7 linked regions of the Homo sapiens genome follow. The protein of the gene in region 3 interacts with the protein of the main gene of each other region in a pairwise test. Each region holds a gene or a part of one and is shown on either strand. Other genes may lie near its edges.

Region 1 (3,500 bases), on a different chromosome or scaffold from region 3:
GCAGATATACCCACATAAACATTTGCCATAAATATTTGGCAATGTGGCAAAGTGTTAACAATTTTGAATATAAATGGTTATGTTGAATCGTGTATTATTTTTATCAAATTTTCTGAAAGTTTGAAAATTATCATAATAAAAAATTGAAGGACTAATATTAAAACTGCATTTTCTTAATGTTTCTATTTGGATATGATGGAACTGTATCATTAGGCCAAATTCACAAATTTTATACACTTCACATTTCAATGGTAGATCTTTACTCATTGGCTCTAAGTTGTATAAAAGAATAAAAAAGTGTAAATTAGCAAAAAGGTAGAGTGACTTTAATTTTGAATTTTTTTGTGACATTTGGGGGAAGTCAATTTGATCAAGGAGGCCTGGAATCATTAACAATAACTCAGGGGGAAAAAAGGACTTATCCCTAAGCTATGAAAAAACCATGCATAGAATAGATGTGTTTAAACAACTGATTGGATGACAGACCCCAAAGAGAAGTAGCAGACTAAGACATGGGCAGTGATAGGTCAGGTCTATGTTCTGCTAAAGTTCCTCAGTGTTGATTTCATCCACTGTGAACAGTTACCTCCATAAACAGGTAATTTTTCTCTTTTTTTTTGAGACGGAGTTTCACTCTTGTTGCCCAGGCTGGAGTGCAATGGCGTGACCTCGGCTCACCGCAATCTCTGCCTCCTGGGTTCAAGCGATTCTCCTGCCTCAGCCTCCCAAGTAGCTGGGATTACAGGCGTGTGCCACCAAACTCAGCTAATTTTTTGTATTTTTAGTAGAGATGGGCTTTCTCCATGTTGGTCAGGCTGGTCTCAAACTCCCAACCTCAGGTGATCCACCTGCCTTTGCCTCCCAAAGTGCTGGGATTACAGGCGTAAGCCACTGCACCCGGCCTAATTTTTCTCTTTCTGACATGGATGACTTTCATTGTCTGCAGCTAATTTTTAGTATATCTATGCCCCTGGTCAAGAATTGTTGAAACATCAAGAAGAGGCATTCAGACATCCAAATTCCATGTAAACCCCTAGCACCTCTCTTCTCTTATTCTAACTCTCTGTTCACGTACAGCTCATTTCATCTTTTCCTAGCTTCATATCTATACACCATTCCCTCCAAATCACCTTCACCCATGCACTTTCTGGTCATCTTTCATAGCTTAGAGGTAAGTCCACCTTTCCTTGAGTTCTAATTGATGATTCCAGGCCTCCCTGATCAAATGGACCTCCCCTAAATATTACACACGATTCAGCATTAAACTCATTCCAATTTTTCCCTAATACTTTTCCAAGCAGGGTACAAACAAGAAATCTTCACGCCTTTCTTGACAGAAGCTTTGCTCTCTAGATAATCTTCTACTTCACAAAGATAACTGGGACAAAACAAACAGATATTTGGCAATAGGACAGGAAGAGGGGGCATGAAGAACCGAAAGGAGAGAAGGCCAAGGGAGCTCACCTGGTTGCAGACAGGCTTGTACTTGAGTCCTGGCTTGTTGAGGATCATCTCCAGCTGCCTGCGGTTGAAGTTTGACACCCCAATGGACTTGGCCAATCCTGCATCCTTACACTTCTCCATGGCCTGTGGAGAAAGGGGTTGTGAGGAATTATTTGTGCAGTTGGCTGCAAATCACGGTAAATGCAAGACAGAACTGTGAGAGCAACAACTTTCAAAGTATGACAATGAAAATAGCTAGCAGTGATTGTCAAAAAAAGAAAAATTCAAACAGCAAATAGGGGAAGAAGATAGAGGCAGCAAGAGTAAGAATTTCTATCTCTTCCTTAGGAAACTGGATAGATTAATGCACAAGCAAGGAAAGAGATTCCTGTCCTCCTTGCCCCCAAGTCTTGTGCCCCACTCTCTAAACATTCCTTTTGTGTTTTTCCCTTCATCTCACCAAAGCTACTCTTGTAAAGTTTCTGAATTTCTAGATCTAATGGTGCATATTCCATTCTTTCCTATTGAACCTGGGAAACAGATTTTCTCTTTTTGTCATCCTTCTCTGTGTCCTCTCCGCCAAGCACTCACCTCCCAGGTGGTACAGAGATCCACTATGTCAAATATTACTTTTCCATTTTCATCTGTTGGTGAAAGTTCCTCACCTGGCTGAAATAGAAGCAGTCATTTTAATGATGTCACAAATTAATTTCTCCACTCATAGCTGTAACCCCAGGTACCTTTAAGGACACTAATCCTCCATGAGACAGGTGGTACAATGCTCCAGAAAGTGATATGTGCTAAGTGTTTTACATATGAAGGTATAAGGAATGTATTCAGGAGACAGGCTTCCTCTAATCTCTTACAAATATTATATGCATGGAAAAGGACCATTTTCTAGGTCTTAATCAAGTTTCACAGTTGACTTATGTCACTTTATTCCGCCCTTATAATTTCCTCTATTGAAGTACCTCTCTTTGATTTGGAAATACCTTGATATCCAAAAATAATGGATTGTACTCTTGTACACGGTAGGATTATCAGACCACCTGAAGAGTTGATAGTCTTTGGGCAGGACTGTGAATCACATAGGGTCAGCAGAAGTTGGGAGACCCAGAGGAGTTGTCTTATGGTGATGACCATGAGCCTTGAGCTGCTCCAAAGCCATAATCGCCACCAATGAAAAAGTTTGGGTCAACAATAATAAAAAAAAGTGTTGGAGTTTAGAGATAAGAATAGACAAATGATACATTTTTGTAGACTATTTCATATCCTTAAATGTAGCCATGTCTTTGACTTCCCATTTTACATAACTCAGTAAACTCTTTTGCATTAACTAGCCTGAGTAGTTTTCTGTAACTTTAAATCAAAAGTTATACACTACACAGTAATTCCTGGCTAAATACAGCTTCAAACTCTATTGTGAAAGAAGAGGCAGCAGAATAATAAAGCTTTGCAAGTCCACATTAAGGGTTTCTAATTTAAGAACCATGCATAGTGGCTTCCACCAAATCTGCTTCAGCTTGAAATGGGGAGAGATGGTGGAAACTCATTGTGCATCACATGTGCAGCAGTTTTATTGGGCACCACAACTGCATGAAACTCTGTGTCTGGGAACATCCCAAGAGATGGACTCAAAAGCCACAACTAAGACAGTGCCTTGAAAGAGACTATTGTAATTTCAAGTTTTTGAGGAAGAGGCTTTGAGGTTGCTGTACTCTCTTCTCTTGTAGGTGTGCATTAGAGAAGTAGGATTCAAAATTTACTCGAAAGAAAGGAAATTAGGTGTTCCACTTACGGTTCTTCTTCTGTGTGATAATCCCTACATCCTCCTAATAAAAAGCTCTGTTCAACTATCCAGATAAACAATGTTTATAATGACAGCAGAAGCGCAATTTTATGCTCATACAAACTGCATACCTTTAGAGACATTGGAGAATGAATAAGATAGAGGTCAACATAGTCCAATTGAGCTTTCTTCAGTGAGTTTTCCAAGGCTGGTCGGACCAACTCTGGTCGATGAAAAGTGGACCAAAGCTGCAGAGGTTAAAGAATGG
Region 2 (2,521 bases), on a different chromosome or scaffold from region 3:
GGAGCCACCGCCCCCGACCCTCTCTCACTTCTCAAATCTCTTTCCTTTTTCCACCTTCTAGGTGTCAAAGACAGTGGATGGTCTCTGAGGTTCAAAACCAAGCTGACCGGGTAAGTATTTACAGCAAAGCATCCAATGGGCTGCTGCGGGGATGACTTGTAAGACAACACGCTTCCTCGCTACAGGAAGCTGCTGTCCCTAATGCCAAAGAAACCGCCGCTGACGCCATCCCCCAAGGAGAACACCTGCTCCTGGTCCAGGCCCCACTCCCCCTCGTCCTGGTCCTCGGGTTCCGCCTCTGCCCCACTCCGGGCGTTCTCATACAGAAACACCTGCTCGTCCACGTGCGCGGGAGCCAGCCGGTTCCTCTTGGCGCTGACCACGTTGGCGGCGGATCCGAAGAGACGCTCAGGGGCGACGCGCGTGGCCGTCACGCACCAGTACTTCTGCAGCACCTTGGGCAGCAGGGGGAAGAGGGCCAGGCGGTCTGACCACCACTTGAGGGGGTCTTCGTTGAGGCCAAGCACCTTCTGGGACTTGAAGTTGCTCAGCTCCTCCACCACCTGGGCATGCCACTCTTCCTGGTCCTCCACGCCGCCTGTCTGGCAGAAGATCTCGGCCAGCATGTTGTTGATGACGCTGGCGGGCGGCGGCGTGGATGTCCGCATGAGCTTCTTGACGGGAGGCTCCTCGGGCACCGGGAAGATCTTGTCCTCAGCCGGCCGGTAGCCGCCGTCTTTGACCTTGTCCAGCAGGCCCTTGGCCTCTTCCACCACGCGATTCTCCACCTGCTGCCGCTCGAAGGCGGAGAGGAAGGGCAGCCTCTTGTAGCGGGGGTCCAGGAAGGTGGCCACGTTGAGAAACATGTCGATCTCGGGCGTCTCCTGGTAGGTCTTGGAAAGCTCCTTGGCGATGACCTCCTTGGCCATGCTGAGCTCCTTGGAGTCGGTCTCCTTGATGTTGAGCGTGGTGTTCAGGAGCATGTGCAGCAGCGGCTTCACCATGCTGATGGTGGGGTACCTGGAGGCCGACAGCATCTCGGCCACCTGCTTGAAGGGCTGCAGGAGCTCCACCAGCCCCTCGATGGTGGCCCACTCGCTGGCCTCCAGCATGAGGTGGTGGTTGTTGCTGTCCTCCACCAAGACCCCGGCGATGACGAACTGCTGCTCCTTGAGGCGCTGCAGCATGGCCAGCGTGCTCCCCCACCAGGAGACGCGGTTGCTCACCAGCATGCAGTGGGCCACGTTCTGCTGCTTCTGCTTCTCATAGAGCATGTACATGGCCACGGCAGACTGCTGGAAGTACTCCACCAGTTTGCGGCAGCGCGACAGCAGCGCCCCCAGCTTCGGGAGCTGGAAGGCCTGCTGGATGCCGGCATTGAAGGTGTGGCCCAGGCAGGGCATGTGCACTGCGACGTCCAGCAGGGAGCACGCCTTCACGATGTCCTTGCCATAGTTGGTGGTGGCCCCGAAGACCTTGGCGCTGATGCCCCACTCGATGAAGACCTCATAGAGCACTCGCGTGATGGTCTCCGCCGTGTTCTCTTCGGGCACCTCGAAGGTCTTCAGGCAGCGGGAGCCCATGGACAGGCAGTTGGGGGCGCCCAGGCCCAGGAAGTGGGCGGCCAGCGTGACGTAGGCGCGGTTCTGATTCTCACTCCTCCACATGTCGGTGGAGATGCCACACCAGGTGGCCTCGGCCAGCTCCTTCAGGATCACCTCCCGGACGGCCCCGTACTTCTCAGGGATGGCCTTGGTAGAGATGTACTTCCGGCTGGGCAGCTCATACCGGGGGTCGGCCGTCTTCAGCAGCACCTTGAAGGTGGGCTCGTCCACGATGGAGGCTGGGTACAGCCCCTCGCAGATGAGGCCCAGCACGGCGGCCGTCAGCTCCTGCTGCTTCTTGCTGTCGTAGCCGTGGCCGGCCTTGACGGCCAGCGCGTCCTGCCCGGGCTGCTGGGACGACTCGGGCTTCAGCTTGGAGAAGGCGGTGGCGAAGGCTTCACGCATCTGCTCCGTGTTGCTCTTGACGAACTCGCAGAATTCCTCGGGGTGGTTCTTCTCCAGGTGGTAGGACAGGTTGGAGGTGTTTCCGGAGTAGGCGATCTGGGCCATGCAGATGCGGCAGTAGATTTTCTTCCACTGCAGGATGCATCCCTCGGCGTTGGTGTCGAAGCCGAAATACTTCCACACCTTGCTCTTGGCGCGGGGGTGGGCCACCAGCTTCAGGTCTGTCTGGGAGCTCTCCAGGCTTTTATTCTCCATTGCTTCTCCACCGGAGCCTGCCTGCTGGACGGCTGCTCATGCGTGGGGACCTGCTGAGAAGGGCCAAGACAAACACAGCATGAGAAGGGACCCAGGCACGCACGGGAGCCCTGCCGGGGAGACAGACAGGGTGCCGGGGCAGCTCCGCTTTCAACCAAAGGGCACTGGGGCCGGACGGCTGGACCTTCCTTGCGGGTCACTTTTGCAGAGTGGAGGAGGGAACCTAGCGCAGGAATACGCTCTTTCTTCCACGTTAA
Region 3 (3,500 bases):
CAAGTTTCCATTCTTCCAAGCATAACGGGTGTCCCCAAACCAACTAACTATGTCTGTTCTAGCAAGCCCGCTTTCTTTGGCCAACTTGTCATACTCTTCTGGTGATGGCCACTGTGTCCGGACAAATGCACTCTTAAGCATGTGCAGCTGCTCAGGTGTTTTTTTACATATCTTGCCTGTACTCCCTGACTTAGGTGCACCAGATTCATCTGCAGGAGAAGTTTCTCCAGCTTCTTCTTTGGAACTACCTGCATTACTTTCATCTATTTCCATTTTCTCTTCCTTTAAAGCTTTTGATTTCTTCTTCTCTGTAAACCAAGCATCGATTTCTCTTCTGGTAAGTTTGGTTTGTGCCCTTAACCTATTTAATTCTTCATCTGTAAGTACAGAGCTGTTGAGAAAACTTGCCTGAAGGACACGAAGCTGCTCTGCAGTTTTCTCTTTAAACTTTTGGGGAGTAAAGTCAGGAAAAGGATTCCAGGATTGCTTAGGCTGTGCAGTACCAACAGTTGGGGATTCCGTGGTTTCATCACTGGAGTCTATAATAATGGTGGTAGAGGAATCATTGTTGAGATGTAAGCACTGATTACTCTTTGAATTTCTCTGGTTGTACCTTGTGTCACTAAACCATTTTTTAATCTCTCCTTTCGTCAGGCCTGTTATTTTCATAAGTCTGATAATTTCTGAATCATGGGGAAACTGATTTTTAAGGTAGCTAACTTTTAATTCTGCCAGTTGCTCTTTTGTCTTTTTTGCCCGAATGCCAAATGAATCAGGGTTTACCAATGCAGTTTCATGTTTGACACTTTGAGAAGTTGGAACTGCTGCTGTTGCTGGCTTTGTTTCTGCAGTAGGCTGAGCAGCAGGTACCTGACTTTTCTGTATATTATTTTGACTTGGAACGCCTGCCACTGTCAAGGCTATAGGTGCTGTAACTGGCAAGGTGTTTGTTCCAGCCACTTGAGTAAGGACCAGACCAGGCTGACCAACTATTTGGCATGTCTGTAAAATAGATGGTAAACCATTACTCCCTGTGGAAATGTGTGTAGGAATAACAGTTATGGTCTGAGGTACAGTATGCACTGTTCCATTGAATTGTTTCCTTCTTGCCTCCTCTACTTCCTCGGGAGTCCAACTAACACCATGTTTTAAACGTTGGGCTGAAAACCATATCTTGATCTGTTCCTCTGTATATTTTGCTTGAGCAGAAAGAACTGTAATTTCTGACATTGTTGGGTAAGGGAACTTGTTGTAGGTGTTAAGTAAAAGGGGATTGTTATCCAATGCAGCATTGTAGGTGGGAATGCTATTAACAGGGATTAAGACTTTGGGAATCAAATTAGAATTCTGCTGAGCAGATACAGCAGTTATCACCTGTGCCAATCCAGGAAGAACTGCTGCTGGTGTCACTACCGTGCTGGCAGTACTTGGATGTATTCTGTTTACAATGGAAGTACTTGTATTAGATTCAGAAGCTGAAGAACTTGGATTTTCTACAATTTCTTCACGGTCTGGTTTGATTTCATTCTCTTTCTCTTCAGGAACGTCCTCAACTGAGTTATGATGAACTGCAATCCGTTTATTTTCCACTTTATTTTTCATCATTTTCATGATAGGAGTTTTACTGATAGATATTCCCGAAGAAGAAACTTCTGTAGATTCTGCTTGCTCTGCATTCTCCTCTTTAACAAAACTACCATCAAAAGTCAGATCATTTATTGTTTGTTCAAAGATTGTCTGGTTATTACGTTTCACCATAGTCAACTTAAAATTCTCTTCTCCTGGGTGATATTTCAGATTATGCTCAGAAAGTGCATCATACCTTTTGGTAAGAAAATTGCATTCGACACAAACATAGGATGAATTTAGCACTACATTGGGATGTTCCGAATCCACATGAAAAGTAAACATATTTAGATCTGGAGTTTGAAAAGTACAATATTTACATTCATATCCACCTTCAACTTTTTTATTTTGCTGATTGTCTGAATCCACAGATTCATGAACCTCTTCATCACTTGAGATACTCTCTGCTCTGGTGTTTTCTACAGGTGTAAGCACAGGAGGACCTTCATCCAAATCTGATATCAACTCAAGGTCTGGATCTTGTTCACTGGCAAGGACCATGCAAGGTGTTGTTGATTTTCGCCTGCTTGCCATTCTGATGTTATGAGGAAAAGCTCAGTGGTGATTAAAAAGCATCGAGGCTTAAAACTGTTCAGTGTTCTTCATTTGAAAACAATGGCTTTTGGTTCTTCAAGTCCATTTTTGTGCTCAACAAGTCTCATTAGCAGCTTTCTCATGGTGCAATCAAGTAAAGAGCTTATTGTTGGCAGATAAAATACTGCTGAATTTCTGAAATTTTTGAAGCACAACTCCAATCACCTACATTAAAATAAATTTTAAAATGTTTTAAAATGAGTAACTATGATCTTTTAAACAAATTATAGTTATAGTTCACTTATATGAAGTGGCTGGATAGCTCAGTTACAAAGATCTAGAATAAGATAAGAATCAGAAAAAAATGTCCTCTAAAGATCAAAATAAATCTCTCCAGGCCAACTCATTGAATGTTAAGTACTTTACCTTGGGTCAGACACAAGCTTATTCATTTAAATTTTTTAGCCAGCTATATATTAGAAGACAAGGGGGAAAGGGCCTGCTTTGGCAAGCACACTATTATTAATGTGAAATGGCAATGTTAACAAGGAGGAACTTTAACACTATAAAAAGCATTCACAGATACTAAAATATTATGGCCATTAAGTGTGTAAGAAATTCAGCCTGGCCAACATGGTGAAACTCCGTCTCTACTAAAAACACAAAAATTAGCCAGGCGTGGTGGCAGGTGCCTGTAGTCCCAGCTTCTCCAGAGGCTGAGGTAGGAGAATCGCTTGAACCCAGGAGGCAGAGATTGCTGTAAGCCAAGATCATGCCACTACATTCCAACCTGGGCAACAGAGTGAGACTCCATCTCAAAAAAAAAAAAAAGACAAGAAATTTAATCCATTAGTTCATTAGTTATGTCCTCTTCTTCCTACTGGTCTATCTCATCAGCCAAAAGCATGCTTCAAGTATGGCAAAAATAGCAAAGATGGAGGATGAATGATCAAAGTTTCAGAAACATTATTATTATTATTATTATTTTTTGAGACAGAGTCTCACTCTGCCACCCAGGCTGGAGTGCAGTGGCGCAATCTTGGCTCACTGTGACCTCTACCTCCTGGGTTCAAATGATTCTCTTACCTTAGCCTCCTGAGTAGCTGGGATTACAGGCGCTTGCCACCACGCCTGGCTAATTTTTGTAGTTTTAGTAGAGATGGGGTTTCACCACGTTGGCCAGGCTGGACTCGAACTCCTGACCTCAGGTGATCTGTCCGCTTTGGCCTCCAAAAGTGCTGGGATTACAGGCATGAGCCACCGTGCCTGGCCTACCAGAAACATTATTCTTAGCACTTGCCACAATGCTACCAAAAGTTATAAAGCAGATCTAATCACAT
Region 4 (2,188 bases), on a different chromosome or scaffold from region 3:
AGTGGCCAGGCCAGCCCTGGCTTTGAGAGCCAGTACTTATTCCTGCACAGAGCTACATCTCCCATGTGCTCTCCAGGTCTTGGGCATGGCACTACTCCAGTTCTGTGGCATTGGTGCAGACACTTGGACCTCTGCACTCATGCTTGCCAGCATTTTCCAGCAGGCCTGGGCCAAACATGCCTTTTTTTCTTCTCCTCCAAAGGAACCAGTGAATCTTTGCCCACTTTAAAGATTAGTTGGTCTTTTTCTTACTGATTTGTAGGAATTCTTCATATATTCTGGCCATTTATTCGTGTTTGGTGATATGTGTTGCGAATACCTTCTCCCAGTCTGTGGCTTACCTTTTCACAGTGACCTTCCCTTCAGTGGTTTTATCCTGCAGGGCAACACGTCAGAGTATAACTCCTGCTCAAGTTCATAACAAAGGTACCTGAAGCCCAAACCTCACAAAAAGGGACCTTTCTTTCTCACCTTGAGCATTCTCCCGCTTCTTCTCCGTCTTTTGGGTCAAAATTGCTCCAAGTTTGAGCCAAAAGAAAAACGTGGAAAAACCCTTGCTGGTTAGCTCTAGCTCAAATGGACTTAGTCATTAACTTGACCTGCAATTTTCAATGTGGCACCAGAAGCCAATGTTTCTCCTTGACTAGCTCTTTTCTCCCACTTACACATGTAGGTATACCTTACTATCAAGCGAGAGAGGCGCCTGTAACCTGTAGCAGCTTTCTAAAGTATATCAGCATCCTCGTTCTGAAATTCCTTTCCTTTCCCTCTCTGGGAAAGAACAGAATACCCCAGGCTTTTGAAAAATAGTTTACACAGACCAAAAGCAGAAACTATTTCCTTCAGTTTCCTGACACTGTCCAAGTGATGACATCAATTGGCATTACTGAGAGCCCAGGGATAATTTTAGCCCAAAACTACTACTCCTAGGAAGGAGTAGTATGATCTACTACTCTTAGGAAGGATTTAGGAATAGTAAAGGTGTATTTCTTCCAAACAGCATAGAACTATTAGTACTATTAGTCATTTAACATTTAACATGGCATGGGATTTTAGAGCTTTGGTGCCTGTAAAGTTTTACTTCTATTAGCTGTTTCATTTCTTTGCACTTATAAAGTTTTCTTCTGTTGCCTATGAAAGCAAACATTTATTCCGGTTACTGGCAAGGCAGTTTAAATCACCTGCTTCTTTCATGAAAGGCCAAGACAATACATTTATTCCCTAACTTGTTGGGAGTTGCGATTACAAGTCTATATCCTGATTTCTATTAGCACATTCAGCTATCCATTTGTGTACACTCCCAAGTCCTAGCTTTTGCTCTTCATGTCTCTTTCAACCATATGATCAATCAGTTGGACGACTTCTGGTTTTTCCTGAATAAATATCTAATCTTATAGGTGCTTCTATTAAATATAATTCTGTTTCTTTTTCTTACCATTTATCATTATAACCCAGCCAACATGTAGAAGTGCAATAAAAATATTTTAATTTTCAACTGTTCAACTGCTAAAATTATTAGCTTGTAATTAAAAAAGAAAAAATACATCCACTATATATTTAGATATATTGTAAATGTAACCTTTGGTGACTGATAATTTGTTAAGTAGAATTTAAATTATGTATCCAATTTATTCAAAGTGTATAGTTGTGTAATTATTTACTATTTGATTAAAAATAGTTATCATGCATTGTGTAGTGAGACTTAGGTTCTATAAACTCATATAGAATTAGAAAAATCAGGCCGGGCAGGGTGGCTCACGCCTATAATCCCAGCACTTTGGGAAGCTGAGGCAGGCAGATCACGAGGTCAGGAATTTGAGACCACCCTGACCAACATGATGAAACCCCGTCTCTCCTTAAAAATACACAAAAAATTAGCCAGGTGTGGTGGCGCACACATGTAATCCCAGCTACTCAGGAGGCTGAGGCAGGAGAATCACTTGAACCCTGGAGGCGGAGGTTGCAGTTAGCAGAGATCACGCCACTGCACTCCAGCCTGGGTGACAGAGTGAAACTCCATCTCAAAAAAAAAAAAAAAAGAAGAAAGAAAAATTGGGCTTTTCTATTTCTAGGCAGAAGCTACCTTAAAGCTCACCCACACTTGGTATTGTGAGACCAAAATTTTTTGTATGCTAGATGCAAATTAATATCTCACCATTGTCTAAATTTGCATTTCTTTGATTTCCAA
Region 5 (4,178 bases), on a different chromosome or scaffold from region 3:
CTGTGCTACAGCCTGGCGACAGAGCAAGACTCTGTATCCAAAAAAAAAAAAAAAAATTAAAATACACTTTAATTTATTGGCCGGGCACAGTGGCTCACGCCTGTAATCCCAGCACTTTGGGAGGCCGAGGAGGGCAGATCACGACGTCAAGATATCGAGATCATCCTGGCCAACATGGTGAAACCCCGTCTCTACTAAATCTACAAAAATTAGCCAGGTATGGTGGTGCACGCCTGTAGTCCCAGCTACTCGGGAGGCTGAGGCAAGAGAATTGCTTGAACCCAGGAGGCAGAAGTTTCAGTGAGCCAAGATCGTGCCACTGTACTCCAGCCAGGCAACAGAGCGAGACTCTGTCTCAAAAAAATAAAAAAATAAAAAATTTAAAATTAAAATACATTTTAACTTACTGATCAAACAGTACATCCAAAAGAAAATTGGAACCTGTATAAAATAAAAATTAAAAAAGCAGTTTGACTCAATAGGCTGCACTCATTTCAGGGCTAACACTGGAAGGTTATTCACTATGGGTCCCTATGTTATAACCAAAAAAGGTATCTGCCAGGAAGTCTTTGTGTCTTCAGAGGAGTCAGTTTGTCTGTATCCATATCCAGTGTCTTCCTTTCTGCCATGGTTGTTGGAAACATAAGAAACACATGAAGCTCAACTTATTGACTCTAACTTGGCCCTGCTATTGATCTGTTACTTTATATTTTCTGGGAAGTTCAATTTTTATCTATTACTAATTTCTCATCTTAACATATTGACTCTTGGCCAGGCACGGTGGCTCACACTTGTAATCCCAACACTTTGGGAGGCCGAGGCGGGCGGATTGCCTGAGCTCAGGAGTTTGCGACCAGCCAGGGCAACACGGTGAACACATCTCTATTAAAATGCAAAAAATTAGCCAGGCGTGGCGGCCTGCGCCTGTAGTCCCAGCCAATCGGGAGGCTGAGGCAGGTGAATTGCTTGAACCCAGGAGGCAGAGGTTGCAAGGTTGCAGTGAACAGAGATGGAGACACTGCGCTCCAGCCTGGGCGACAGAGCGAGACTCCATGTCACAAACAAAACAAAACAAAAAAACCATACTGACTCTTACAAATCTCACAAAGTCCACCGCAAAATAAAGTAGGGAATTAATAAACAACTTACCTTGTTCATTTTGTTCTGTTCTTGGAAAGACGGAGACAACTCTGAAGATACAGCTGAGTTGGAAAAAGAGGAATGGGGTCATGAAAGATTTGGCCTGCCTGGCAACTCCCGGATTCTTCTGCCCTAAGAAGCCATACACACCCACTAGGTAAAATGCTCCGTCTGGGAGAATATCAATGTCCTCTGACACTTCGGAATAGGGGGTAGAAATGGTGAAAGAACACCCTAATACAACTCCAACATAACCATGTAGCTCTTGGGCACAAGATTTTTCATCAGGTGAAAGTAAATATTTGCTTCCTAAGGATTTCAATCTCCCTCAGTCTTCACAAAAAATGTATAATGACAATATTGGCCAAACAAGTTAACAATACATTTAATGAAAAAACATTAACACTAAAACCATTGTAAAGAATAGGACTAGGCTATCGATTTTCCCAGTAATGTTACTTAACCTCTGATGAGTTAGTCCACAGAAAACCATAAGCGTCAGTGCTTCAAAGAAAAAATCCGTTTTAATTTCTTCATCTAACTTTGTTGCTATTTCTCAAAAGGATGTTTTAAACTTGCTTTGATGTGTGTAGAAAAGTAGTACTGGCTTAGGGGTCAGGAGAAGTGACTTTTAGTTCTCCCTACTAACAAACTTTGATCCTGAACAAGTCAGTAACCTTGACAAACAAAAAACAAAAAAATTATTTTTTCTTCTAACAAATGAGGCAAAATTAGGTAATTCTGGTTTTTTGTTTGTTTGTTTGTTTTTGAGACGGAGTTTCGTTCTTGTTGCCCAGTCTGGAGTGCAATGGTGCAATCTCAGCTACCTGCAACCTCCGCCTCCCGGGTTCAAGCATTTCTCTGCCTCAGTAGCTGGGATTACAGTCATAGGCCACCACGCATGGCTACTTTTAGTATTTTTAGTAGAGACGGGGATTTGCCATGTTGGTCAGGCTGGTCTCGAATTCCTGACCTCAGGTGATCCACCCTCCTCGGCCTCCCAAAGTGCAGGATTACAGGAGAGAGCCACCGCGCTAGGCCAAAATTATGTAATTCTTGAAGATCCTTCCTGAGTGCAAGATCAAGTTAGGACAGAGGAACAGCAAATAACAAGATGGGGTGATGGACATGACTGGAGGGCAGTTCGAAACCTAAAGAGGATGAACGCAGAACGGGCAACAGAGTCCGTATGTCGGGCGGGCGACTGCACCCGCCCTTTCCTACCCAGGTAGGGCCGCGCCCTAGCACATGGGCGTAAACACGCTCAACCAGAGAACTGCCCCTCCCGCAAGGCTCAGCGCTCGGACCGCGCAAGCGCACATGCCCTCCTCCGCGGCCCCTACAAACAGGGCAACGCACAGGGCGTAGCCCGCTCCCTACAGAGGCTGCGCCTTAGAGGAACTGGCGTAGCGTCCTGGTAGACATGCTGCAGCCCCGCCGTCCCCGGCTTCTCCGTGAGGTCCCCGGGACTCCTCGCCACCACCTGGCACTGGCCCCCGGCTGCCTGCTCCTGGAGTCGCGCGGGGCCCCCTCTCCGTCCCTGCCCAACCCGCGGAGGCTTACCTCACTCTCTCTTCGGGTTGCATTCGCCATAAGAGAGCCGGTAGACCCCTGAAATCCCGGGACCGCCTCCCACGCAAAACGTGAGACAAACAAAAGGAAAGGCGGAAACGCAGAAACGCAGAGGTAGCCAGTGGATGAGGCATGCGCAGAGCCCACGCTCAAAGCCTGGCGCTGTTGGCGCCCAACCTGGAAACTACCTTTCCCGTGAGGACGCGAGAGCAGCCCTTCGGGATTGGCAGAGAGGTGCCCCGCTAGGCAGTGGACAGATGCGGTCTGAGTTGGTGTGGGAACTGCCCGCAGCCCTGGCTCTCCCGGGGCGACCCAAAGGGATGCACTGCAGGGGAGGTCTGTGTGCAGCAAGTGTGCAGGTTAGACACAGACGCCTCAAGGAAAGGACAGCTGTGTGTCAGTTTCACTTTAAATGTTAGGAAGTAGATCTTATTGATACAGTTTAAAAGACTTTGACACTATCAGCGATTCTTTGAGAGCAGGGATGGGGGGGATGGGGGAGGTGCCACAGGAAAGCTACTTCATCAAAATCGTTAACGCAATAAACGGAAATTGAAAAGTCAGAAAATAGACATAATCCGAAAGAAGAAAATAAATGTCACATGATTTCCCCTGTGACATTAAAATTGCTTGACTAAATGGAAATACATTTAGTCTATCTGTACCTTTCTTAGGAAGACAAAATTCCTAAAAGAATATCAACAAATTTTTTTATGTATTTTTTCTCTTTGATCTTTAGTGTATTGTGTACTTTACAAAAGCATTGTCAACTTTATCCAGAGTAAGTAAAAAACTAAATGAACAGCCATTATACGTTTTAAAAAGCTTGAAAAAATGCCTGAGAAATATCTATATCTATCTATATATATAATATTGCTCTATTCAAAGTAGTTTGGCACCTGCTCCATGGAAATAAGACACCATGATTGAGAGTATTCTTTAATGTGTAGTAAATACAGCATTTCAAAACAGTGAGGGAAAGAATGGAGTATTCCAAAGAGCATGTCATTCCTAACAATTTGGAATATAGAGATATATATAGATCACACGTGATAAAATTCACATGTATACAGTATTGAAACATTTAAACGAGTATAAATTTTTGAAAATTGACATGTGGGCCAGGCACAGTGGCCCACACCTGTAATCCCAGCAGTTTGGGAGGTGGAGGCAGGAGGACCACTTGATCCTTAGAGTCCAAGACCAGCCTGGGCGTTATAGTGGGACCCCTGTCTCTACAAAAAATTAAAAATAACAATTAGCTGGGCATGTAGGCAGGCGCCTGTGATCCCAGCTACTCAGGAGGCTGAGGTTGGACGATCACTTGAGCCCCAGGTTGCAGTAAGCCATCATGGCACCACTGCACTCCAGCCTGGGTGACAAAGTGAGACTTTGTCTCAAAAAAAACCAAAAAGGGATGTGATACCAAAGACAGAAACTATAAATTTAATATCAGTTACATTTTA
Region 6 (3,217 bases), on a different chromosome or scaffold from region 3:
CTAGCTCCAGCTGTGACAGCAGTCATAAGTACCCCCTCCCCAACTAGGAGCTCCCTCAAGATCACCAGCATTAGCCATGGTGGAGGGACTGTCCTCCCTATGTCACTGCTGAGGGATGCTCTCTGTCTGGCCTGGAGGCCTGAAAGCAGCAAGTAATTTCCTCAGAGGCCGCCCAGGGTAGAACTGCCCTGCAGTTGTGCTGTGTTTTTCCCAGGCTGGGTCTGGCCTTTGGCAAACAGTCAGCTGGGCTAGGGCCTGCTATGGTTTGGAAAGGCAGCTTCAGAGGTACCATGGGCAGGGGATGGTGATCCTTCCCATTAAAAGTGTGTGTGTGTGAACACCCACACATGCATGTGCATGCCTGTGTGCGTGTAGGAGAGAGAAAGAGATGATCAGGCAGTAAGTGTGGCATGGATGAGCTGATTCACAGACTGACCACTGAGGTGAGGTCTGCTTCCATCCCAGCCTCAGTCTCCTTAGCTATAAAATGGGCAGTGGGACTTAGGTGAGGTCTTAGCTCTTCTCCTCTACCTCGGTTTTCACACTCTGAGGTCTGGTTCCAGGGGTTACTAGAAGAGGGAAAATAAATATCCTAGGACTGGCAGTTCCTTCAGTGCTCAGAGCTTCCTGGACTATGTGACCCTGGCTTGTGCCTCGATGTTAGGGAGAGAAGCAGTCTCCTCAGCCCAGAAGTTCAAGAGCACTAGTAGGACCCTTCACTGTCTTCCCCTGGCTTTACAAATCCCCAGTGAGTCTTGAACACAGCACAGTGCTTTGCACACCATAAGTGCCCTAGACATGTGTGCTGGTATCTGCCACTGCTCCATAAGTCTTTATACATGGAATGTTAGTGACTATTGGGCCAAGCCATAGTCAGTGGATTGTAGACATGAGGAGACTGAGGCAGCCTTCAGAAGCCTGCCTAGAGCTATAGGCCATGGCTGTGCATAGCTGTGTCTTCACTTCTCTCCTGGGTATGAGAGCCCTTCTGCATCGATCTCTGCTCTCCCCTCCATTCCCCACCTGCCACCATGATGGGTCAGTTAGCAGACATTTTCTAAGCCCCTACTCTGTGCTTTCCATCACCCTTAGGATAAAGTCCCCCCGCCTTACTGCAAGGCCCTGTGGAGTCTGGACCCTGCCTACTCTGATCTTGTGCACAGGACTCCAGCCAGCCTGGCTTCAGGCCTTGTCTAGTGCAGGGCCTGTGCATTCCCTTGGCTTGGATACTCTTCTTCCTCTCCCCTTCTTGTGCCTGGCTGTTTCTTCACAGCCTCAGACAAGCCTTCCCAGCCACTGGAGCTAAACATGGAGCTTCTTTTCATTACAATTCAGCCCTGGTTTGTTTGTTTTTTAATATTCGTTTCCCCATTAACATGTAAGCTCCATGAGGGCAGGCACTCAATTTAGTTCACCATTATTCCTCAGTGCCTAGCACAGTGCCTGGTTGTTAGCAAAAAACTGATACATGGATAATAATAGCTAACATTTATTGACTGCTAAGCTGAGGCAGGCATTGTCTTAAGTTCTTTACCTGTGTTAGGTACTAGACCCATGTAACAACTCATGACTTAGTAGTATTACCTCCATTTTGCAGGTGATGAAGCCAAGGCACTTCACAAGTTTTTATGTCACTTGCCCAGAGTCATTCATTTAGGTAGGGGTAGTCAAATAGGAATGGAGTCTGTCTCCTTAGACATAGCTGTAAGGCCTCTTGGCACAAGTGAATGGATGAATGAATAACATACGGTCCCTGTCCTCAAATATATCACAGCCCAGGGAGGGAGACAAGCACAGAAACATAAGTAATGATCAAGAGTGATGGAACTCCAGGGATTGCGGTATCGTGGTGGTTGGTTACATCTGTCTGGAGGGGTTGAGGAAGTTCCCATAGATGAGGAAGCACAGGAACTTGAATTTGAAGGGTGGATGTTTTCTAAGTAAAAGGAAAGTAGGCATTCTAGGCTTCCCAAGTTTCCCAATGTATGGAGATGCCTTTGGGGAAGGAATCTCAAGCCCATTCTCCTAACTCTTGTCCTCCTAATCTCCAGGTCCCCACACCAAAGTTGTGCGGCGTATCTTCACCAACAGCCGGGAGCGATGGCGGCAGCAGAATGTGAACGGGGCCTTTGCCGAGCTCCGCAAGCTGATCCCCACACATCCCCCGGACAAGAAGCTCAGCAAGAATGAGATCCTCCGCCTGGCCATGAAGTATATCAACTTCTTGGCCAAGCTGCTCAATGACCAGGAGGAGGAGGGCACCCAGCGGGCCAAGACTGGCAAGGACCCTGTGGTGGGGGCTGGTGGGGGTGGAGGTGGGGGAGGGGGCGGCGCGCCCCCAGATGACCTCCTGCAAGACGTGCTTTCCCCCAACTCCAGCTGCGGCAGCTCCCTGGATGGGGCAGCCAGCCCGGACAGCTACACGGAGGAGCCCGCGCCCAAGCACACGGCCCGCAGCCTCCATCCTGCCATGCTGCCTGCCGCCGATGGAGCCGGCCCTCGGTGATGGGTCTGGGCCACCAGGATCAGCCAGGAGGGCGTTCTTAGGCTGCTGGGATGGTGGGCTTCAGGGCAGGTGGGGTGAGAATTGGGCGGCTCTGAAGCAAGGCGGTGGACTTGAACTTTCCTGGATGTCTGAACTTTGGGAAGCCTTTACTGACCCTGGGGCTGGCTTTTCTGTTTCCTGTACCAGTAGGAGATCAGAAAAATGGAGCAAAGTGGTAGGTACTTTTTGTGAAGACGGCACGGTCTTCCCTCTTCCCTCAGTCCCAAATCCTTCCCAAGTAAGAGGCTGGAGTTGTCACTGCTTTTGGCCTGGAGTTTGGGATCCCTGTCTTTCCTAAGACCTGGGGTTGTCAGCTCTCATCTGAGGCATCCAGCAGTCTCTGCCTTGCCTTTAGCCCCTCCCAAGCTGGCTGGGGTGGCCTGTGTGGCCACTTCTGTCCATATTTATAGGTACCCAATAGCTGCCCATTTCGTGAGCCCCATCTTCACCCAGGCCTATGTTGATCCATCCAGCTTGCCAGATGCTGCAGAGTCACAAGCCTCGAGGTGCCTTCTTCAGGGCCTGGTTGAAGAAGATGATCAGTGGACAGTCTGCTCTAGATGAGCTGGGCCGGAGGGTCAGGAAACCCAGTCGCCCTTACTTCTTGCCCTGGGGATCAAAGTTCTGCTTTCTCCCCAATGAGACTTGCCTTCCTAAGCCTGTGGCTGTGGA
Region 7 (3,500 bases), on a different chromosome or scaffold from region 3:
TCTGGCTCCCTAGGATTGCCAGAACCCATGGAACCTGAGTCTAGAGAACCTGCCCGCTGCACTGCGGTGTGGATGGGGCTGGTGCTGGTGAACTGACTGCGACTCGCTTCTCCCCTGTCTGTTCCAGAACCCCTCCTGGCCATGCTGTGACCTGCAACCTAACTTATAGGTAGAGACCGTCCCATGTCTACACAGAAAGCCTCCAGAGCTGCGGGGATGTGGCTGCCATGAGATCTCCACAGGCAGAGGGTAGCTTTTCCTTCCTCCTGTTGGGAGGTGACATAGAGAGAGAAAGGATGGCCTCGACAGTTAAACGTCACACTGACTGCCCAGCAACAGCCTCCTGTCTCTACAAGGAGAGAAAGGGCAGCATCGGCCACGGCTGTGTAACCACTGTGAGACTGGGGCAAAGTCCAGCTCCCGAAGGTGGCAAGCCCGGCCCAAGGGACAAGAGTGAAGGGCACATGGGACAGACCTGGGCCTGGAGGGCCCTGTGCAGCAGAGACAGGTACCTTGGCAGCGGCCAGCTCGTGGGCAAGCTCCTGGATCTTCTGCTGCTGCTGAATCAGCAGCTCCTGGACGGAGGCGAGGGTCGTCTGTAACTGAGTCACTGCGAGGAGAAAGCAGTCACGGCGCTGGCAAATTCACAGGCACAGACGTTCCCCTCGCTCGGTCCGCACACCTCGGAGCTGCCCGTGTTCCCGCTCCATCTAATTTATCTGCAGACACCCCCAGCCCCCGCAATCCATCTAATTTATCTGCACTCTGGGTGATCTGCCTGCACTGTATCTAACCTCTAGTATTTCTACTTTATCTTTCCATTGTGTAGTTGTCCATGGTCAACAGTATATCCGTCCAGAACCTCTCCCCTCTAATTAGAGCTGGCTATGATTTGCTGAGCTCTCCCGGCTTCTCTGGCGCCTGCGTCCTTCATCTCCTGGGCCTCAGTGTCCTTGTGAAACTCCTGGGGTCTCCAATGCTGGGAGAGATGCATCTCAGGTCCCCGCCACATTCACATCCAGGAGTGGCTCAAGCCGCACGTCCTGTTTCCCACTGCTCCTTCCCACCCTCCCCACCTGACCCAAGCTGCCTGCTCAACTCCCTGGTGTCCCGTGACCCCTCAGGACCTTGTTGCCACCAATGTCAGCCTCGCAGGAGCAAACGGCAGCAGGATGGACGTGTCAGAGGGTTTCTGTGAGCTTCACAAACGTGCTCCAGAGGGACACAGACTCCTGCCTGGGACAGGTGGCTCTCTCATTGGCCTTGCTCTGGTTTTTAGATTCAGAGCTGCCGTCTAGTAAACAAGTTTATAAAGAAGAGAAGCCACCTCTGGCGCGACAGGTCCCAGCTAATCTGGGCCATCGCTGGGGCACTGGGTAATGAACGCGAGCCCTGTTGAGTCGATAACAGGGGAGGTGGCTGGGGTCCCGGGAGCCACAGTAATTACAGACTCTCTTGACCCCACAGTCGAGTCTTAGAGGGAAGGGGGAAAATCACTGAAAACCCCCCTGAAAACCTCATAGAAGCAGAAATTAAAAATGAACTTTACAGCCCTTAGAAAGGCTGTCATTTTATTCCCCTTATTAATATTCTGAGGTTGGGAGCCTTTCCGTAAAAACATAATTAATTGAGGCCGCGCCGACAGTAAACAAGCAATTTCAAATTAAACCGAAATGACGGCGGCTTCATTTGCAAATGTGAACAGATTCTCAGAGCAGATAAATGAAGTCACCACATAGAGTGGAGACAGAGGGAGAGGGGAGGGGCAGAGAAGGGGCTGCTTGGAGAAGGCTGTGAGGGGTGACTTGATGGAGTCATTAATCTTTACCTGTCTGGGCCACGCTGCCACTCAGCTCAGAGAGACCGGCCTCCATCCTCTCCAGCTGCTTTCTGTCCTCTCGGCCGCCCAGGATGAGGGGGAGCAGGTATTTCTGCAAGAAGCGGGACAGGGTGAGGAATGCATACGGACCCGGGGTTATCCTCCAACAATCTCTCAAATTCTGCCGCCCAACTTTCTCCCTGTCATCCCTGGGTTTTGGAAACCCTAAGCAAACACCATAAATGAACAAGATATTTGAAAAAGTTATGAGACTGCGATTACAACCACGTAAAAATTCTGCCTGAATAAGGACAAGGACCAGGAGGGAACGTGGACAGGGAGAGTCAGCTGGATCTGCTGTGATGGGAACTTTTTGGTTCCTTTATTTACTTTTCTTAGTGATGCTACACTATTTCTGTAACACAAAGTTATAAACTCTACTGTCAAAGTTGTAAGATATAAATGTGGATGGACACACAAGCAACAGATAATGCTGGAGCCTCCAGGAGGCGAGGGAGGCGGGGCAGCTCTTCCCGGCATGTTCTCCTGAATTGTGAACATTTTGAACCTGTGAGTGAATCACCTATTCAGAAACAAACGAGTAAATTAATAAACAAAACATCGCTGGAGAAACTAAAGGAAAATCAACAACACATTTCTGGGACCCTTGGTTCTCTCGCCAGGGGATAACATGTGCGCTCTGAGGCTGCTGGAAGAGGTCACCTCAGTCTTTTTCTAAATGAAGCCTGAATCCTCAGAACAAACTTCCTTCACGTAAGAGTCAAAAGAAGTCGAGTTCCCCAGAAGGAAACACAAGGCAGAAGGGAGAGGAAGGCGCAGGACCAGAAGAAACTGGCTCTGGGGAAAAAGAAAGTGAATGCGGCAGGGCCACCCCTCACAGGGGCCTAGAACCAGGGATGCCCGAAGGAGCCGTTCAGGAAGGGGGCAGGCAGGGCAGGGCTGGCAACTGGTGCTCTTGGTTGCCTTGGAGGTGAGGGTGTGGAGGGGTGGAGGTGGGTGGTGGGGCCTGCAGGGACAGCTGCGTGTAGGAACATGTGCACTGACGTCCAGCCACTCGGGACATGGAGACAAAGCCCCCCAGGTGAGGAGTGAGACCCGCTGCCCCCTTCAGTGGGCACTGCCAGAGGCAGTGCAGTGCAAGCCTGGCAGGAGCTGCCCGGGGATAACTTTGGTTCTTAATCTATCTGGGCCCAGATAGGAAAGAGGACGGAAACTTCTCCATTACGGTTTCTGTACCAGGGAAGGAAAAGAAGCTCTCTCACAAGGGGTTTGTGGGAACTCATTTCCAGAGTGACTCCTAAGTGAAGATCATTCTTCAGCAGCACATGTATAGACGCATTTTCTATTTTGCAAAGTGCTTTTCAACCACAGTGTGAGCTATTACCCACAACTGAGCCAAAACTCATCAAAGGTAGCCTTACACTTCAGGATGAAATGTCCTCAGCAAGAAAGGTAAAGAATTCTTGGCCGGGCGCGGTGGCTCACGCTTGTAATCCCAGCACTTTGGGAGGCTGAGGTGGGCAGATCATGAGGTCAGGCGTTCGAGACCAGCCTGGCCAACACAGTGAAACTCCGTCTCTACTAAAAATATAAAGATTAGCTGAGTGTGGTGGCGCATGCCTGTAATCCCAGCTCCTCGGGAGGCTGTGGCTGGAGAATC

The links.
Region 1: the proteins of ZHX1 (region 3) and AKR1C3 interact in a two-hybrid assay, tested with the Homo sapiens proteins (one large-scale study listed by BioGRID and IntAct).
Region 2: the proteins of ZHX1 (region 3) and ZBED1 interact in a two-hybrid assay, tested with the Homo sapiens proteins (one large-scale study listed by BioGRID).
Region 4: the proteins of ZHX1 (region 3) and GNG11 interact in a two-hybrid assay, tested with the Homo sapiens proteins (one large-scale study listed by BioGRID and IntAct).
Region 5: the proteins of ZHX1 (region 3) and ZNF33B interact in a two-hybrid assay, tested with the Homo sapiens proteins (one large-scale study listed by BioGRID and IntAct).
Region 6: the proteins of ZHX1 (region 3) and TAL1 interact in a two-hybrid assay, tested with the Homo sapiens proteins (one large-scale study listed by BioGRID).
Region 7: the proteins of ZHX1 (region 3) and PEX14 interact in a two-hybrid assay, tested with the Homo sapiens proteins (one large-scale study listed by BioGRID and IntAct).

Annotation. Positions count from the first base shown.
Region 1 is NC_000010.11:5,097,414-5,100,913, reverse strand, and holds part of AKR1C3 (aldo-keto reductase family 1 member C3), read right to left. Parts: intron 3,481-3,500; coding exon 3,364-3,480; coding exon of another isoform or gene 3,316-3,363; exon of another isoform or gene 2,738-3,315; intron 2,113-2,737; coding exon 2,035-2,112; intron 1,588-2,034; coding exon 1,465-1,587; intron 1-1,464. UniProt on the Homo sapiens protein: Cytosolic aldo-keto reductase that catalyzes the NADH and NADPH-dependent reduction of ketosteroids to hydroxysteroids.
Region 2 is NC_000023.11:2,488,456-2,490,976, forward strand, and holds part of ZBED1 (E3 SUMO-protein ligase ZBED1), read right to left. Parts: intron 2,318-2,521; 5' UTR 2,265-2,317; coding exon 180-2,264; 3' UTR 1-179.
Region 3 is NC_000008.11:123,253,787-123,257,286, forward strand, and holds part of ZHX1 (zinc fingers and homeoboxes protein 1), read right to left. Parts: intron 2,386-3,500; 5' UTR 2,161-2,385; coding exon 1-2,160. UniProt on the Homo sapiens protein: Acts as a transcriptional repressor. Increases DNMT3B-mediated repressive transcriptional activity when DNMT3B is tethered to DNA. May link molecule between DNMT3B and other co-repressor proteins.
Region 4 is NC_000007.14:93,926,923-93,929,110, forward strand, and holds the end of GNG11 (guanine nucleotide-binding protein G(I)/G(S)/G(O) subunit gamma-11 precursor), read left to right. Parts: 3' UTR 1-1,688; downstream 1,689-2,188. UniProt on the Homo sapiens protein: Guanine nucleotide-binding proteins (G proteins) are involved as a modulator or transducer in various transmembrane signaling systems.
Region 5 is NC_000010.11:42,635,771-42,639,948, forward strand, and holds the start of ZNF33B (zinc finger protein 33B), read right to left. Parts: upstream 2,801-4,178; 5' UTR 2,734-2,800; coding exon of another isoform or gene 2,704-2,733; exon of another isoform or gene 2,535-2,703; intron 1,203-2,534; 5' UTR 1,159-1,202; coding exon 1,150-1,158; intron 1-1,149. UniProt on the Homo sapiens protein: May be involved in transcriptional regulation.
Region 6 is NC_000001.11:47,219,009-47,222,225, reverse strand, and holds part of TAL1 (T-cell acute lymphocytic leukemia protein 1), read left to right. Parts: intron 1-2,051; coding exon 2,052-2,506; 3' UTR 2,507-3,217. UniProt on the Homo sapiens protein: Implicated in the genesis of hemopoietic malignancies. It may play an important role in hemopoietic differentiation. Serves as a positive regulator of erythroid differentiation.
Region 7 is NC_000001.11:10,621,450-10,624,949, reverse strand, and holds part of PEX14 (peroxisomal membrane protein PEX14), read right to left. Parts: intron 1,932-3,500; coding exon 1,829-1,931; intron 611-1,828; coding exon 513-610; intron 1-512. UniProt on the Homo sapiens protein: Component of the PEX13-PEX14 docking complex, a translocon channel that specifically mediates the import of peroxisomal cargo proteins bound to PEX5 receptor.